2 separate regions of the Homo sapiens genome follow, and region 2 is linked to region 1. Evidence: fine-mapped expression QTL. Tissue or cell type: blood mononuclear cells. Region 1 holds a variant in brackets; the other region holds the start of a gene. All regions are shown on one strand. Distances are from middle to middle.

Region 1 (8,109 bases):
CCAGTGCTTCTTTGGCCCAGTTCTGATTTTTTTTTTTTTTTTTTTTAGGCTAGCATTGATTTTCAAGCATTGGAAGGAATTGGTGAGGGTTTTTGCTAATTAGCAGGGAGGCCAAGCACACCGCTCTTGGCTGCGCCACAAGGAGGTGGTTGCCTGTGGTTTGGGATATTCTTTTCCTCTTCACTGCAGTCTCTGGGATGGTGGGTCTTGTCTCTAAGCAGCTGGAATGAAGGCAGAACGTATATCCCATCATTTGGAAGCAGCATGCATTCAGGTTCTCCTAAATGATCTCTAATAAACATCAAGGCGGGCCCCATTCCTGTGATGTGTATCAGTTTGGGTAAATAAATGCATTTCCTTCAGGATTTCATAAATTTTGATCATAGTGCTTCCTGGGTTTGTCAAATCTAAAAGTTTTAATTATTCTTTTCTGTTCTTACAGGGCTATCTCTTCATCCACTTCATCCATTCAGTGACCCTTTCCTGTACTTTTCAGCTCTGTTCTCTTTGATGAGTTAAAATGAGAGGGCAATGGAGTATAATGGGTAACTTCAAGATCCTAGGAATATGCAAGTCCAGAGCATATTGTTTCCTCATCATTAAAATCAGAAGAATAACAACATGCTCTTTACTGGATTGTTGTAAGGATTAAATAAATTAACATGTGTAGCTATTAGAAGAGAACCTAGTCTGTACAAGCATAAGCGTGATAATCTGAACACACAAACAGAACTAGATAGCTGAGTTTTTCTCTTCTTTATACAAACGTTTTGGAAACTGTTATCTATGCATTTGATAGAAATGTGATTCTAGATTTTTCTGAATCTAGGTGCAGTTGATTCCATCTTCCAGGATGAGATATGTAGTAACCTCACTGTCTAGCCTTAAAGTGGTAGCTGCTCTAACATGTTGACTTTGCACATCATATGTAAAGAACCACACTATTAATCTTACTGAAAACCACATTCATTGTTTATTCAAGCCTGCTCTCATCCAGGCACTTCATTAGGCGGTGAAATTTCAAGAATAAACCAAAGTCTTCACCCTTTGAACCTTACAGTCCTGTTCATAGTTATGTACTATTTATTGCTGTGTAACAAATTACCCTAAAACTTAGCTACTTAAAACAACAAACATTTATCTCACACAGTTTCTGGGGGTCAAGAATCCAGGAGCAGTTTAACTAGGTAATTCTAGCTCAATGTTTCTCACAAAGTGGTACTCAAACTATTTACTGGAGCTACAGGATCAACTAGGCTGGAGAATTTTTTTCCGAGCTTCCTCACCTGATTATTGGCAAGCCTCAATTTCTTGCTGGCTGTTGGAGGCAGGTCCCTATTCCTCACCATGTGAGCATCTCCACAGGCTGTTAGAGTGACCTCAAAACATGACAGCTGGCTTCCCCCAGAGAGAGTAATCCAAGAGAGAGAACGAATGAGAAAGCACCCAAGATGGAAACTGCAGTCTTTTATAGCTCAATCTTGGAAGTAACATCCCATCATTTCTACCATATGTCATTGGTCACACAGATCCTGGTAGCATGTAGGAGGTGGACACACAAGGGTATGAATACAGCAGATAGGGACCATTAGAGACTAACTACCACACAGTGATTGAGAGTCATAGTTTTTTGTGAGTCATTGGTCAAAGGAGACAGATGGGTCAGAGATTCTGTTCCATGCTTTTTATTTGAAAACCCAGCCTCCCATCATCAAGAGGCTCCTCTAGTGCCCTTGATGCTCTCCACCTGATCCTCTGTATCTTGCCAGAAGGTCAGGAGCACGGGAAAAGCACAAGTATAGGGAAATGCACCATAGATTCAAGGGGCTAGACTTGAATGGAGATTGTAAGCATTATTTTGCCCCACATTCCATTGCCAGAAATCACCTAATTGAAAAGGAAGCTGAGCAATACGGTCTGTATGTGTCCCCAGATTAAAAAGGAATGAAATTTGGTGAATGCACAAGTCACTCTGCCACTCCCTGTAGCTGAAAAGAGGCTGTACGTTTAAGCAGTTTACATTTTTTTAAAAAAATGATTCTGTTCAGTTTTAATACAACAAAAATATGATTGCTCACCATTCTGCAACAAAGCAACTGATTGATTGCGTATTTTCACCTTTTCAATGCATTGTAAATGCAGCCCCTGTTAGAGGCCAGTAAGCAGGTGGTGGAGAGTAGTTCCTGAACCATTAAGTTTGCTGCTTTTTCAGGAATACTATTAAGATGCTGGCAGAAACAAGTCTTGCCTTGTTTCCCAAGTGCGGAAAAAAGAAAGTCTTTGTTCCCAAGCAAATGAAAATACAAATCACAAGACTAAAATTATGAATGCAAAACAATATATTAAAATGTGGCTTGTGTGTAGCATTTGCATGCATTTTAATATGCATCTGTCTTTCCCTTTGCTAAATTCAGTAGGCTCTGAAAATATTAAACAATGGAGTACAATTAATGATTAGAGGAATTGTTTTGGAATATATTTTAACCTATTTATATTCCTATTGCCAAACCTCTTGCTCTTTAAGGGCTCTGAGATGTCCAATGAGATCATTTTATTGGTCAGATCTCATATCACTGTAGCCTAAAAACAATTCACAAAAATATTTTTTATAAATTGACGTGATAACGCTCAAATGATTGTAACATGATTAAAACCATTCCCAGGATAGAAAAATCAAATCCAAATTTGGAAGCTGGAAAAGGCTTTAGAGATCCTTTGGATTGGATATTCTCATCCCTCCTACTCATTCCAAAGTCTGGCTATATTTATTTCCAAAGAACCCATAAGAAATTTAAGGCCATTTTTTTTTCCCCAAAAAACCCAATTTGCTGAGCCTTCTGCTCCAGTTATCTTTGCAGCTGAAGTTTTCAGAATTGGTTTTGCCCTTTTCTGGGTTTGTTTTCGTTGCTTTCTATTTGAGCAAACCCCCAAAAGGGAAATCACTTTTAGGGCAGTAGCAAAAATGAACCAAATTTCAACCACACTCAGAATTCTTGCTCTCTGCCCATCAAGGCTTCTGGACCAGAGGAGAATATATTTCATGAGAACACAGCTCTAAGCCATAAACTTGAAATACATCAAGCTCTTTGTTGTTAATTGGCGCTTACCTCACCTGAAGGCCTTTGCCAAGAAGAGCAGAGGGGTTTAATGGGGAAGGAAGAAAGGAAAAAGCCTGAAGTCCTGGAAAACACTCCAAGCCACATGTGATTTTAGCTGGGGGGCTCTCCACTCCCCAGTATGCTGGCGCAACAAAGTGGCCTATGTGCTCTCTCAGCCCTCGGCTGTTTGTTTGGGGGGCAATGCGCAGACTGGGGCCTGAGTGATAACTGCTTCGTGTAATTACGAAGACAGCTTGAAAACTATGCTCCTCTTTGTTTCAGCCTCCAGATGACGGCTGTCTGACTGCTGTTTGTGCCAGTTTTATTTCAAAGCGCTTTTCTTTCCATATTTCAAAGGTCAGTGTGTTTACCGTGGCCAAAAAGAGCCTGTGTGTAAGAGAAAGAAATCCATGTGGCTGAGTGGCAGGAGAACCAGAAGAGGAGTT[A/G]GGGAACTGGATTCGAATCCTAGCTCAGCTTCTAGGTAAGTTAGAGAACTAAATGAGTTGATCTCTTCTCCTTTAGCATTGAAAGGGGAGGAAGGAAGTAGTACTAGTGGCCTTATTTTAGATTAAAAAAAAAAAAAAGGCCGGGCGGTGGCTCACGCCTGTAATCCCAGCACTCTGGGAGGCCGAGGCGGGCGGATCACGAGGTCAGGAGATCGAGACCAGCCTGGCTAACACGGTGAAACCCCGTCTCTACTAAAAATACAAAAAATTATCCGGGCATGGTGGTGGGCACCTGTAGTCCCAGCTACTCTGGAGGCTGAAGCAGGACAATGGTGTGAACCCGGGAGGCGGAGCTTGCAGTGAGCCGAGATCGCCACTGCACTCCAGAGCCTGGGCAACAGAGCAAGACTCCGTCTCAAAACAAAACAAAAAAACCTAGAAGTGTGGTTCTCAAAGAAGACGTGTAGTTATTTCCAGTAAAGAAACACTATCAAACACTCAACTGAGAAAATGTCCACTTCATCTCCGTGAAATGGAAATATTTCCTCCCTCAGAGAAAGCAGGCTTGATATTTTGGCCACCCTTGGAAATCTTGAGATTGTTTTTGGTCAAGGAATTTTAGCACTGGGAACGAATAGCAAACCCCAAACCCTTTCTCAGGACTCTTAGTTGGCTTTCTGACGCCATTACTTAGAAAAACAAGGCTGGTTAGACTGAGTTACCTCCCCATATTTAAGACATTAGTGTTTTTATTATGGATATTTGAAAACAGCATCAGATTTCAATGGTGTAAGCTCCATACCTATTTCTCTTTTTTATTTTCTAAATTTTTAAAATGAAGTGGGGTCATTTGATCTCTTATCAAATCAGTTGGAGACTGGTTTTTTTCCTTTAACTTTTATTTTTTTTCTCTTGAGACGGGGTCTGACTCTGTCACCCAGGCTGGAGTGCAGTGGTGCCATCTTGGCTCACTTCTACCTCCACCTCCTGGGCTCAAGCCATCCTCCCGCCTCAGCCTCCCAACCCACCACACCCAGCTAATTCTTTTATTAATATTTTTTGTTGAGACAGGGTTTCACTATGTTGCCCAGGCTGTCTTGAACTCCTGAGCTCAAGCAATATGCTCACCATGGCCTCCCAAAGTGCTGGGATTACAGGCGTGAGCCACCGTGCCCAGCCCATACCTATTTCAGATGCTCTTCGTGATTCATTTTCTTCTAATATGTTTTTCCCATCTATCTTGCTCAATTTTTATAGAATGAGCTCCTGGGAAAAGGAGGTAAATAAGCTGTTGAAGTGGTAGAGAGCCTGCGTTCTGAAGCTACATTTGCCTAGGTTCACATGTTAATACTGCCACTTTGCTATGTGACCTCGGATAATTTGCTTAACTTTTCTGTGCCTCATAGTTTTCTTGTCTACTAATGTAAGTACTTACTTTATGGTGTTGTGAGGATTAAATGGATTAACCCACGTGAAATATGTAGAACAGTGTCTGGGACTTCATAAACATGCAAATGTTGAGCTAATTATGAAAAACACTCCTTTCCGAAATGAATTCTGCACTGGGAAAATTCTTCTCTTTTGTGCTACCGTTTCTCTTCTTGAATCGATCCACCTACATCTGCAGAAGTAAAAAAGTAAATTTGCAAATGCCAAGGGAACAGTGCCTGTGTTGTAAAAGAGAGGAGAAAGTAAAACAGAAAAAAAGAACAAAGGAAATATCTTAAATGTTATTCCCCAATTACTGTGAATTTTCAGCCTCCTGTGAAATAAAGATACTTTCTGCCTTGAGTTTGCACAAGACAAAAAGAATTCTCACTCCTTGACCAGAAAAAAAGCATGACCATCCTTGGCTGTGACTCAAGAAGAATGGAGGAAAGCACAGGAAGGGGAACTAAAGTGTATTGAAGACTTTGTCTACACCCTGGATTTGAATTCATGAGTTGAATACCATTGATTTTATAAGCAAATCAAACTTGATTTTATAATCAACGAATCAAAGAAAAAAAAGGTTCAGGGAGGTGAAGTGGCTTTTCAAGGTCGAGCCAGTCAGTGGCATGGCTGGATGTAAGCCCACTTCTACGTGATGCCAAGGCCCCTCATTTTGCCTCCTTCTTACATCCCCTTCTTAGGAGGAACCTGGCTAAGATGGAGTTCTGAGAGGCTCCCAGGAGTGTAGGCTGAACCTAGACTCAAGGTAATCCATTACTACACAGGCAGTATTATAAGCAAGATGCTCTTGTATTTTTTCTAAGTCATTTATATGCCCGTTCAAATGAGTAGACTCATAGGGGTCTTTGTTTTGAATCACGTAATTTTAGGCTTCAAGGAGAGGGGAACCTTCAGAAAAGTCATTTCCGTTCACTTCTAAAGTGAGAATAGTTAAGTTATACCCACTTTAAAGATGCCTTCTAGCTCTCACTTAAAAAATTCTATGTTATCCAAAGCAACTTATGAATAAGGTACTGCCTCAGTTTCTTATTGCTGCTATGTAAATTAGTCCAGACTTAGTGGCTTAAAACAACACAGATTTATTATGTGAAATTTATGGTTCTGGAGGTCAGAAATCCAAAATGGGTCTCACTGGACTAAAACTAACGTGTTGTCAGGGCTGCATTCTTCCTGTGGGCTTTAGGGGAGAATCTATTTTCTTGACTTTTCTAGAATCTAGAGGCTGCCTGCATTGCTGGGCTCATGGCCTCTTCCCATCTTCAAAGCCAGCAATGGCCAATCAAGGTTTTCTCACATTATACCACTCTGACATTGACTCCTCTGCCTCCCTCTTCTACATTTAAGGAACCCTTGTGATTCTACCCAGAAAATCCAGATTAATCTTATTTTAGGTCAGCTGATTATCATGCTTAATTCCATCTACAACTTCATTTCTCCTTTGGCGTGTAATATAATATATCCACAGATTCTAGATATGGACATCCTTGAGGGGCCATTACCTTGCTGACCACAGGTACCTACATGATGTTGTCAACAGGATGCATCTTTAGTATTTGAGCTCTGCCACATTCTAGTGGCCTAACGTGGACAAGTTACTTAACCTCTCTGTGCCTCAGTTTCCTCACATGCGGATAATAGCAGTATTTATGGGGTTGTTATGAAGATTAAATGAATGAATACTTTTAGGACACTGCTGGATGATTAAGTCCTAGCTCTTATTATTATTATTATCTTTGTGATTATTGTTTTGAAGATGATGTGGACAACCAGAACATAATTTATGTAATTTATGCAGCTAGTTGATACATTGATTTCAAGATAAATTGTTTTGCTATGTGCCAGAGGCAGTTGCTATCTGTGACTTCTCCTTGTCTCCTCTTTCCCTCTATTGGCCAGCAATCTGAAGGCCACTCCCTCTGATAACTTCTGCCATTGATTCAGCCACTGGGATGGCCCAGAGAGGACAACAGTCTAGAAGTGTGCAAACATGCATCAAAGATGTTATGCTAACAGAAACAACAGGAGCAATGACATAGGCATTGTCTTTTTATTCATTTGGGAGTTTCAGTCTGAAGAAATGTTGAGGTCAGTATCAGACTAACTTAATGTCAATCCTCTGGTTCAAAGCTTCAATACAGAAATGCTAACATTGTCTCCTCTCTACTACAGGCAGGGTAAGCTTTAGATCGTCACCAAAAATTGGCCGGGGTTCAAATCCAGGCTCCAGCTGTTGATAAATTTGTGTCCTGGTATAGATTAAGATGGGCAGGCCCTTAAGGATAAGAGAACACAAAATTCCCATAGAGAATTTTTTTTTTTTTTTGAGATGAAGTCTCACTCTATCTCCCAGGCTGGAGTGCAATGGCACGATCTCAGCTCGCTGCAGCCTCCGCCTCCCAGGTTCAAGCAATTCTTCTGCCTCAGCCTCCTAAGTAGCTGGGTTTACAGGTGCGTGCCACCATGCCCAGCTAATTTTTGTATTTTTAGTAGAGACGGGGGTTTCACCATATTGGCCACACTGGTCTCGAACTCCTGCCCTTAGGTGATCCACCCTCCTCAGCCTCCTAAAGTGCTGAGATTACAGGTGTGAGCCACTGCGCCTGGCCGAGAGTATTTTTATATGAAGAAGTCCTCTTCTGTCAATGTGAGGGGAGTTAACTCAGGTGGATTATGAGTCAATGCCACCTCTAGTCTTACAAACCATTATTTTCTTTAGGGCAAAGCCCATAGGGGGATACCTTTCAGGTTTGTTTGTTTGTTTGTTTGTTTAATTCAACTGATGGATTCAAAATGCTCCTTGTGAAGTTTTGGGGCTCACCTCAATTGTGACCTGGGTAAGCTGCAGGTTTGATAGACTACTAAAGTTTGGCCAAACCCTAAGTAAGCCAGAACTGAGCCCAAACTCCAAGTAAGCTGCAGGGATTCTGCTGTCCCATCTTTATCCTCCCATAGTCTGATGAAAATCTCTTTTATAGATTCAGTCTGAGTCCATTTTCCTCATCTCTAGTTGCAAAACTTCTTCATGGAGATAGAAAGAACTTGGGCACATGAATTCCATCTTGGTCATGACCTTGACACCACCCCTACTCCCTTCTTCACTGCCTTGGAGCAAA
Region 2 (8,090 bases), 75 kb before region 1:
AGGCAAATCTGTACTTTTCAAAATTTTATTTTTGAAAAGAAAGGTACAGTCTACAGAATCTTTCATTCCTGATTCGATCATACTCAACCCATTGGCCACCTGCTATTGTTGAAGTGGAATTCAATTGCAATATACTGAATTCAAAAAGTCAATATCCAGGTATTTTGATATTTTTATAATCTAAAGATCCAGTCTCTAGGTAACAATTAGAGAGGACCCAGAGACCCAGAGCTCCAATCAAGAAATATTGACCAGAAACTCAGAAGGGTGAGTTTCTCATCTTCTGTTTCCCCACTGACTCAATGAAAAATGTTACCTGGATACTACTGAAATTCCAAATAACTACATGCTGCACCACTAAGGACAGCAACTGCTTTTTTCCAGAATAATCAGGTTGTCATCAAAGTAGAAGGCTGCTGAAATGGACAGCAAGCAACACGCACACACACACACACAATATCACATATTTTGTTCAGAAAGACATAGGTCTGGGTTTTGGGTTCAGAAAGACCTATGCCAACACATTATTAGGTTTTTAGAAATATTCTATGGATCAATGAATAGAGAGAGAATTTATTCTTCTTGAGGAGTAGGTATTTAAGAAATTAGTAAGGATTAGGAAACTTTTAAAAACATCTCTTTGGACTTACTTTATATGGTTATATGAAACAATGAAATCATTTTTCTGTATAGGAGTCTAATCTCCTTGGGAGTAACATTTTACTACCTGGTTCTATTGCTTTGTAGTTGAGTGTGTATTAAGTCCGATATCTACATACAAGTAACAGGGACAAATGGGTTCCTTTTGTAAATACTCCCTGCCACAGTCTACATTTGTAATCAGACGATCAATATGGTTAACATGTGCCAACTTCACTGGAGAAGGGTGAGTGAGCCTGGTTGAGATCCATGATACAGGAGAAATAATGTGAAGAAGCTGTATGAATGGGGCCCATTGTTTGTCTGTATTTTAAATGTTCTCATTTTTCACAACATTTTATGGAGAGCTCTTAAAAGGCCTTTATTGATAGAGATAATCATTAAATGTCAGTTTAAAAAGAGGTGTTGTTGTTGTAAATGTAATCCAATCTGCTTTTGCACAGGGCCTTTTTATCCTCGTGTACTGAGGAGTACTTTGCCAACACAATCCTGTCACCAAAATCCAAGATGTCATTCATAGAGGCTTAGAGAACTCCTTTCTAGATTTAAATTTAGAGGCATGGGATATTTATTGGATTAAATAATTTATGTTTAAAAGTTGACATAAATTTTGTACATGACTTTCTTTCTCTGTGACAACTAGACCCTGAATATTTACTCATTAAGTGATCATGTGTTGAGCATCTACTATACACCAGGTGCAGTGCTCTGTAATGTGATAAAAAAGCTAAAGTCCTTACCTTCAAAAGACAGAAATAGGCATGCAAATAAGTGGATGACAATGCAGGGTGACAAGTGCAATGTAAGGAACCTGTGCAAGCTAGCGAGTTTGAATAGAGCATTGATTCTCAAAACCTGATCCCAGGACCAGCAGAATCAGCCTTATCTGGGAACTTGTTAGAAAGGCAAATTCTCACTGCAAAAAATAAATAAATAAATAAATAAATAAATAAAATAAAATGACATGCATGTAAGGTAATGCGTATATTAGTTAGCTTGATGTAGCCATTCCACAATGTGTACCTATATTAAAACATTGTTGTACACCATAAATAGATAAAATTTTTGTCTGTTTTAAATAAATTTTTTTAAAAAAGGAAATAATGTGAATACTAATAGTAAAAACATCAGCAAATCCCTTAAAAAACAAAAAACAACAACAAAAAAAACTTGGTATGCAACAAGATCCAAAAACATAAAAGTAAAACAAAACAAAACAAAACAAAACAAAAGAGAAAACAAAATAAGAAAGAAATACAAATTCTCCAGAGCTACTGAATTCTACACTCAGGGGGTGGACCCTGCAATCTGTGCCTTAACAAGCCCTCCAGCTGTTTCTGATGCCTGCTCAAGTCTGAAAACTGCTGGCCTTAAGCAGTGATTGGCAAACTCTGGTGCAGATTAGAATCACCTGGGGAGCACTTAAAACTCCCAGGGCTCAGGCCACATCCCAGACCAATTAAATGAAAAACACTGGAGGGAGATGAAGCGGTGATGTCTGCACCAGTTTTTAAAAGTCAAATAAGATATTTCCAGGAAGACACAGTAAGAAGGCATTTCTGGCAGAGGGAAGAGTCCACAAAGGCACAGAAGCATGAAACAGCTCTGTATTTTGGAGGTAAAATCAACACTATTACTGAAGCATAAAATTTAAAGGGGTGGCCAGGCATGGTGGCTCAAGCCTGTAATCCCAGCACTTTGGGGGGCCGAGGCAGGCGGATCACTTGAGGTCAGGAGTTCGAGACCAGCCTGGCTAACATGGCGAAACCCCGTCTCCACTAAAAATACAAAAAAAATTAGCCAGGCGTGGTGATGCGTGCTTGTAATCCCAGCTACTCGGGAGGCCGAGGCGGGAGAATTGCTTGACCCCAGGAAGTGGAGGTTGTAGGGAGGCGAGATTGTACCACTGCACTTCAGCCTGGGCGACAGAGTGAGACTCCGTATCAAAAAAAAAAAAGTTTAAAGGGGACAGTAGACAGAGGTCAGTTCACAAGGAGCCTCCAGGCTGCTACTGCGTGGAGGATGAATTGAATCTTACTTATAAATATATTTTGTCTGTTTTTTATTGGAAAACTGGCTTGGGTTCCATTTTGCTACCTACCCATCTTGCGTCCTGGTGTTGACTTTCCTATCAAAACCATTCCTCTGAGCTGAGGCTGTTTATAATTAAGATCAGTGATTATCTAGCACTCGACAAAACTCAGCCACTGCTGCTCTGAGCGGAAGGAGAGACAGACTTAGTAGCAGATAACTCAGAAAAGAGGATCTGAGACAAAGCAAAGGAGCTACAGAAAAGGAAATGGTTGCTTTAGCTTTTTATTCCACCCTCCCCCCGACAGCTGAATCAGGGAGCGACTCTGGAATAAGTGCATCTGCCCTTTAAGAAATCAAAGCCAGACTCAGGAAGTGGGTGGGAAGCCTTCTAAAGAGCCTCAGCTGCCGCGTGCCTTCTGTCTGCTGTGGGCCCAGCAGCTGCACAGACCCCTCTTGTTGGGAGACAAGACAGGGCTCTTTCTCTCCCGTGACCTCAGCCTCATCTCCAATCGTGGGGAAGAGAGAAACTGAAATTCTTCCTGTGACTGAACACATGAGAATGCAACAGTTACTTGGGGTAACAGGTTTCCTGTGGGTCCTGTGTGAAGAGTATGCATTCATTCCAGTGTCGGGGAGGGGAGAAGAATGAGGAGGAGGCAGGTGCGTTCCATTCTTTGATTTGTATAATACAAATATTTCCAGAGGACAAAGATGGGCAGAAGCTTTAAGCAACAGCCATCTTCCATCTCGACAGAGGGAACCATGGTGGTTGAACAAAGCACCTAGCACCCTCTGCCTGCCTCTCCTCCCTTCCACCTCCCCTTGAACATTTTTAGGTTTTCAAATGTAATAAAGAAGTCTACTGTTCCAATGGGATTCAAGGTCAGCTCTAACTAGGTGTTCACATTCATAGCCTGCTGACCAGATCAGAGGCAGTTTAATAAAGCAACTGTAAATCAGCTATGAAGATGGTGAACACCCCGGCCTGTACTAACTTTATGAGGTTCAAGTCTCTATTTTTGATACCCCATGAAATAGGGAGAAGTCGGGGATGCATGTGTTTTGGATAGATGAGTTAGCAAGTTGAGCCTGAGATTGTGGTGAGCAATTTAGGCACAACTTCAAGGTCAGCCTCGTTTGAAAGGGGAGGGGAGGCAGTTCTCTCCTGAGGGAATTTGTTAAGGAGCTCATCACTTGTTTCTGAATTGAGCTCTGTCGGCCATCTCAGCATCATCTGACACCTGCACACATCATATCATGTGATACACTTGGGAGAAAGGGCCAGGTCAATTTCCTCCTGGTGGGTGATTTGGTTTTCCTCTTCAGCTAATGTTTAATGTTTCTCTTTTGATTTGCATGTGGAAGCCTTACTCTATGCTAAGCTATGATAAGCACTTTACATGCCAATATGACAGCATAGTCCTTTAACCACGGGCTTTAGAATCACTCTGCCATGTTCAAACCTCAGCTTTAATCATGAAATATACCCAGGTAACAAACCTGCATGTATACCCACTGAATCTAAAAGTTGAAAAAAGTCTCTATGCTACATAAAACAAAAACAAAAACAAAAAAAATCTGAACTGTATCCCTTTGGACAAGTCACCTAATCCAGTCAAACCTGAGTTTTCTTAAATACTAAATAGGAATAGTGATAATAGTGCAGGTACTTGCCAGATTGGGTTAATATGAAGGTTCATAAATTTATTCATGTAACATTCCTACACATAGTATGTACTCAATAACGCTACATACTTTTATTATGAACCATCCTTTTCACAACCTTAGGAAGTATATACTCCTCTCCCTACATGCAAAACAAAACAAAACAAAAGAGAAATTTAGAGACTTTAAGATCTGGCTCAATGTCACAGAACTCGTATGTGGGAGATTCAGGTTTCAGACTCAATTCTTGGGATACAGTCCATGCTGTTAAACATTACACTAGACAGCCTCTACCGAACAATGACTTTTTATTACTTGACTGTTTAAATTCACCTCTCCTCTCCTTCTCAAAATGAGTACCAATTTGTCCTATGCGTAATTTATTCTCGAGCCTTAACGCTTGTTTTCTGCCCTTGTTTGATTCCTTTTCTCAGTTTGCAATTTCACTGTTAGGTTTCTGCATTGTACTCACAACATTTTTGAGTACTGCCTGTTATAAACTAGTCATTTTGCTTCCACATATTCATTCCTAAAGAGAAGACCATTTCTTAAGAAAAAATAGAATAAAGGAGGAACAGATTCTCAGATGTAATCATCATGGTGTGCAATGAATATCTGAGCACTTGCAGGGCCATTGCACTTTCAAATATTCCTTTTCTTGTCTGCATAACAAGGACTCAGCCACACTCTCCTAAAGACAGCTGGCTATAGTAGTCTGGGTGAAAAGCCTGACCATTAGATCTGTGCTTCATAATTCGACAGTGAGAGAACAAAAATGGTATATTTCAAGTTTCAGATATATGTGTGTGCATATGCATATAAATTACATATATTCATATATTTATGTGTGTATATATACACTCATATAATCATGTTGGAGTTTTAGAGATTTAGTTAAGCTCTTGTAGGCTGGACCCACAAACCACAACCATAAACTGAAAAAGAATTCAGCTACCTAACAAACTACTGAATTGAAATAACTGAAATTGAATAATTTTTCTGGGATTATTTAGGTATAGATAATTTGGAAAGTCAATTGTTGAAAGTCAATTACTGCCATATGCTTCTGATATCAAACAGGTTCATTTTAGACCTATAGATCAAATAGGTCCTTCACAACTATGGCAGGAATGGTTTATAATATCCAGCAACGATGAATCTAATGTATATGTGTAAATTTTTGTCAACTGATATGCTGTTTTGTTTGAGTTTCCACTTAGCCACACTGCTGTGGTTTCTTGGGGGTAAGAGCTGTAATACACTCAGACTCCTTATACCCTCTCCAGGGGTATGGTACTTGGCATATGGTTTTTACTCAGTAAATGAAGAAGAATAATGAACTGAAATGCTTTCTCCCTGTTTCCTAAGATGCTACTTAACCAGTGAAAAAGTTACAAGTTACAAAAGTCTTTTTTAAAGCCTTTTCAACTAGATAAAAAACACTTACTACACCTTTTTATGTATAGGCCACTAGCATGTAAATGAAACTGGCACAACAAGGTAAATGTGTATAAAATAAATCACAGAAAAGAGAGTTCTGATGAGATATTTCAGTAATGCAGTAGATAGCAAATGATGATTTTGGAGTATTTTTTGATTTCCCCAATTTAATACTTGATGTTATCAAGTATGTTCACAATGATTATTGTGTCCAAGACGCACCTTAGAAGAATGTAAAGAAGTGTTAGACAAAATATGGGTAACCCATCCCTGCCTTCAGGGAGCTTCTAGACTGATTGCACATAGGTCTGTATTTACATAATTATCAAGTTACAGATCTTGTTTCTTGTCTGTGAAACTCTAACCATATTCTAGAATCAGACATAGCATCACTTCCTGTATTAGTCTTCACAAACAGAACTCTTACTGTCTGTACTGTGCTCTTTACTTTTTAACGTTAGTTCTTCTAGGTTGCATCAAGAATTCAGGAAAACCACATAGGAGGAGGCCCAACATTTTCTGGGTGTTTAATGTGTGAACCTACTTGATAACATCAATTTTTAAACAGCTCCCCATTGATACAGACTCTGAGCTACTTACCCTTTCTCTAGCTGCTCTGCAGGACTCCATATTTTATGCATGGGGACAGTGATCACAAAGTTAGAAGGTACCAGGAATGGCATGCCCATTTACAGATGTACGATAGCCTTTCAGCAATCACAGGTATATCACAGTGATAATTTCTGGAGGATAAACTGGGGAAATTGAAAATTCTACATTGGGGCTCTAAAATACTCCAAAATCATCATTTGCTATCTACTGCATCACTGAAATAGCTCATCAGAGAAATCTATCTCTTCTGTGATGTATTTTATACACATTTACCTTGTTGTGCCAGTTTCATTTACATGCTAGTGACCTATACATGAAAAGGTATAGTGCCTGTACATAATAAATTTTTATGACTGGCTAAATTATTTGAAGACCACAGATATGCTGCATCCACTCCTAACCCTTATGAAGGAACAACTGTTAGGTTCTGAAACTATATACACTATTTGCTTTAAGAGACTACAGTATAGGAAGTCCTGAAATGTACCACAGAGTATGAATAGGTTGTGAATTATATATTATGCTGAAGCTTAATGGGTACTGTAGCCGAGGGCAAGATATCTCATAACTAATTATATTCATTTTGCATTTAGCAGTACATTCGAAGTACAGATATTAAAAATGTGTAAGTTGAACTTCTGTTAAAATTACTCTCCCTAAGGAAAATAATTCTCTTTTCTTGCTATACTTTAGGCTACACTTACAGGCTGCCAAAACACTTCATTTGATTTAAGAAAAAGTCTGTCCAACTGTTGTCAAGGATCATGTAACAATGAGTTGTTTTGCTTTTTGGTTTTTTTTTTAGCCTTGTAACTGTACATTTGTGTTCTGGTGACCCAGCCTCAGGCTGCTTGAGAGAGATAGAATTAAGAGTTGATTTAAATAGTGAATGAAAAGGAGAATATGCATTCATACAGAGCTTTGGTGTTTGGAACACTTTCACATACATTATCTCATTTAATTCTCCCAAAGGCTCTACAGATAGAGGTACTATGATTATCCCTGATTTTCAGATGAGATTTTATTTGAAGAGAAGGAGTAATGGAGGTTAGGATTCAAACATAGGTGTTCTGACTCCAAATCCTGGTCTTTTCTAGGATTTCCAAAATCCTGAAAAAAGGAACGTATTTCTAAAATTCAGTACGTGCCGGGATAAATCTTTGTCAGACTACATTTGCTATCTGATTGTTGATGCCATAATGCCACTGTAGGTTAGTTTTCTCTTAATGTGTCATGTGTATAAACCAGAATTCTAAGTCTGAGGTTCTCTAAAGGATCTTCTCATGTTTCAGATGTCAATAGGAACTATTCGAATCTAAGGAATCAGGGAAACAGTATGGCATTTATTAGTAGCCTCAGAGTCTTCTTTCTAAGGCTAGAAGTAAGAAGTATCTTTAGTTCTGGACTTGATCTGCAATTTTTCTTGCAATGGGTCAACAGGGACAACCAGTTGTTGTGGACAAAGCAATGGAATTGCGACTTTAGTGAAGCTTGAAATACTTTTTCAATAGGAAGTGACTTAAGTTCACATAAGCCAATATTCAAATGGTGTCTAAAGTGTGCAGGACACTGTGGAGATGTTAAATGGAAGTGGGGAGGGACATACATCTTCTTTTGCCCAGAACAATCCTGATTTATGCCAGTTGCCCTAGTGCCCTGTCTGCTTAGAGCCACTGACC

The links. PIP is the estimated chance that this variant, and not a neighbour inherited with it, causes the effect.
Region 2: it holds the start of LINC02391, and the variant in region 1 is fine-mapped to the expression of LINC02391 in blood mononuclear cells (TOPMed, PIP above 0.99).

The regions. Positions count from the first base shown.
Region 1 is chr12:92,283,954-92,292,062 of GRCh38, reverse strand. All of the region lies in intron 2 of LINC02391 (long intergenic non-protein coding RNA 2391), which reads left to right. Among named protein-coding and RNA genes, the nearest start is that of LINC02391, 76 kb to the left of the region's middle. The variant A/G (reference allele first, on the strand shown) is at 3,545.
Region 2 is chr12:92,358,855-92,366,944 of GRCh38, reverse strand. It overlaps LINC02391 (long intergenic non-protein coding RNA 2391), which reads left to right and starts at 3,113. Exons shown (of 5, transcript XR_007063404.1): 1 at 3,113-3,354. The region is part of intron 1 of LOC105369902 (a long non-coding RNA gene); the gene reads right to left. RefSeq lists enhancers at 3,511-3,560, 4,041-4,130.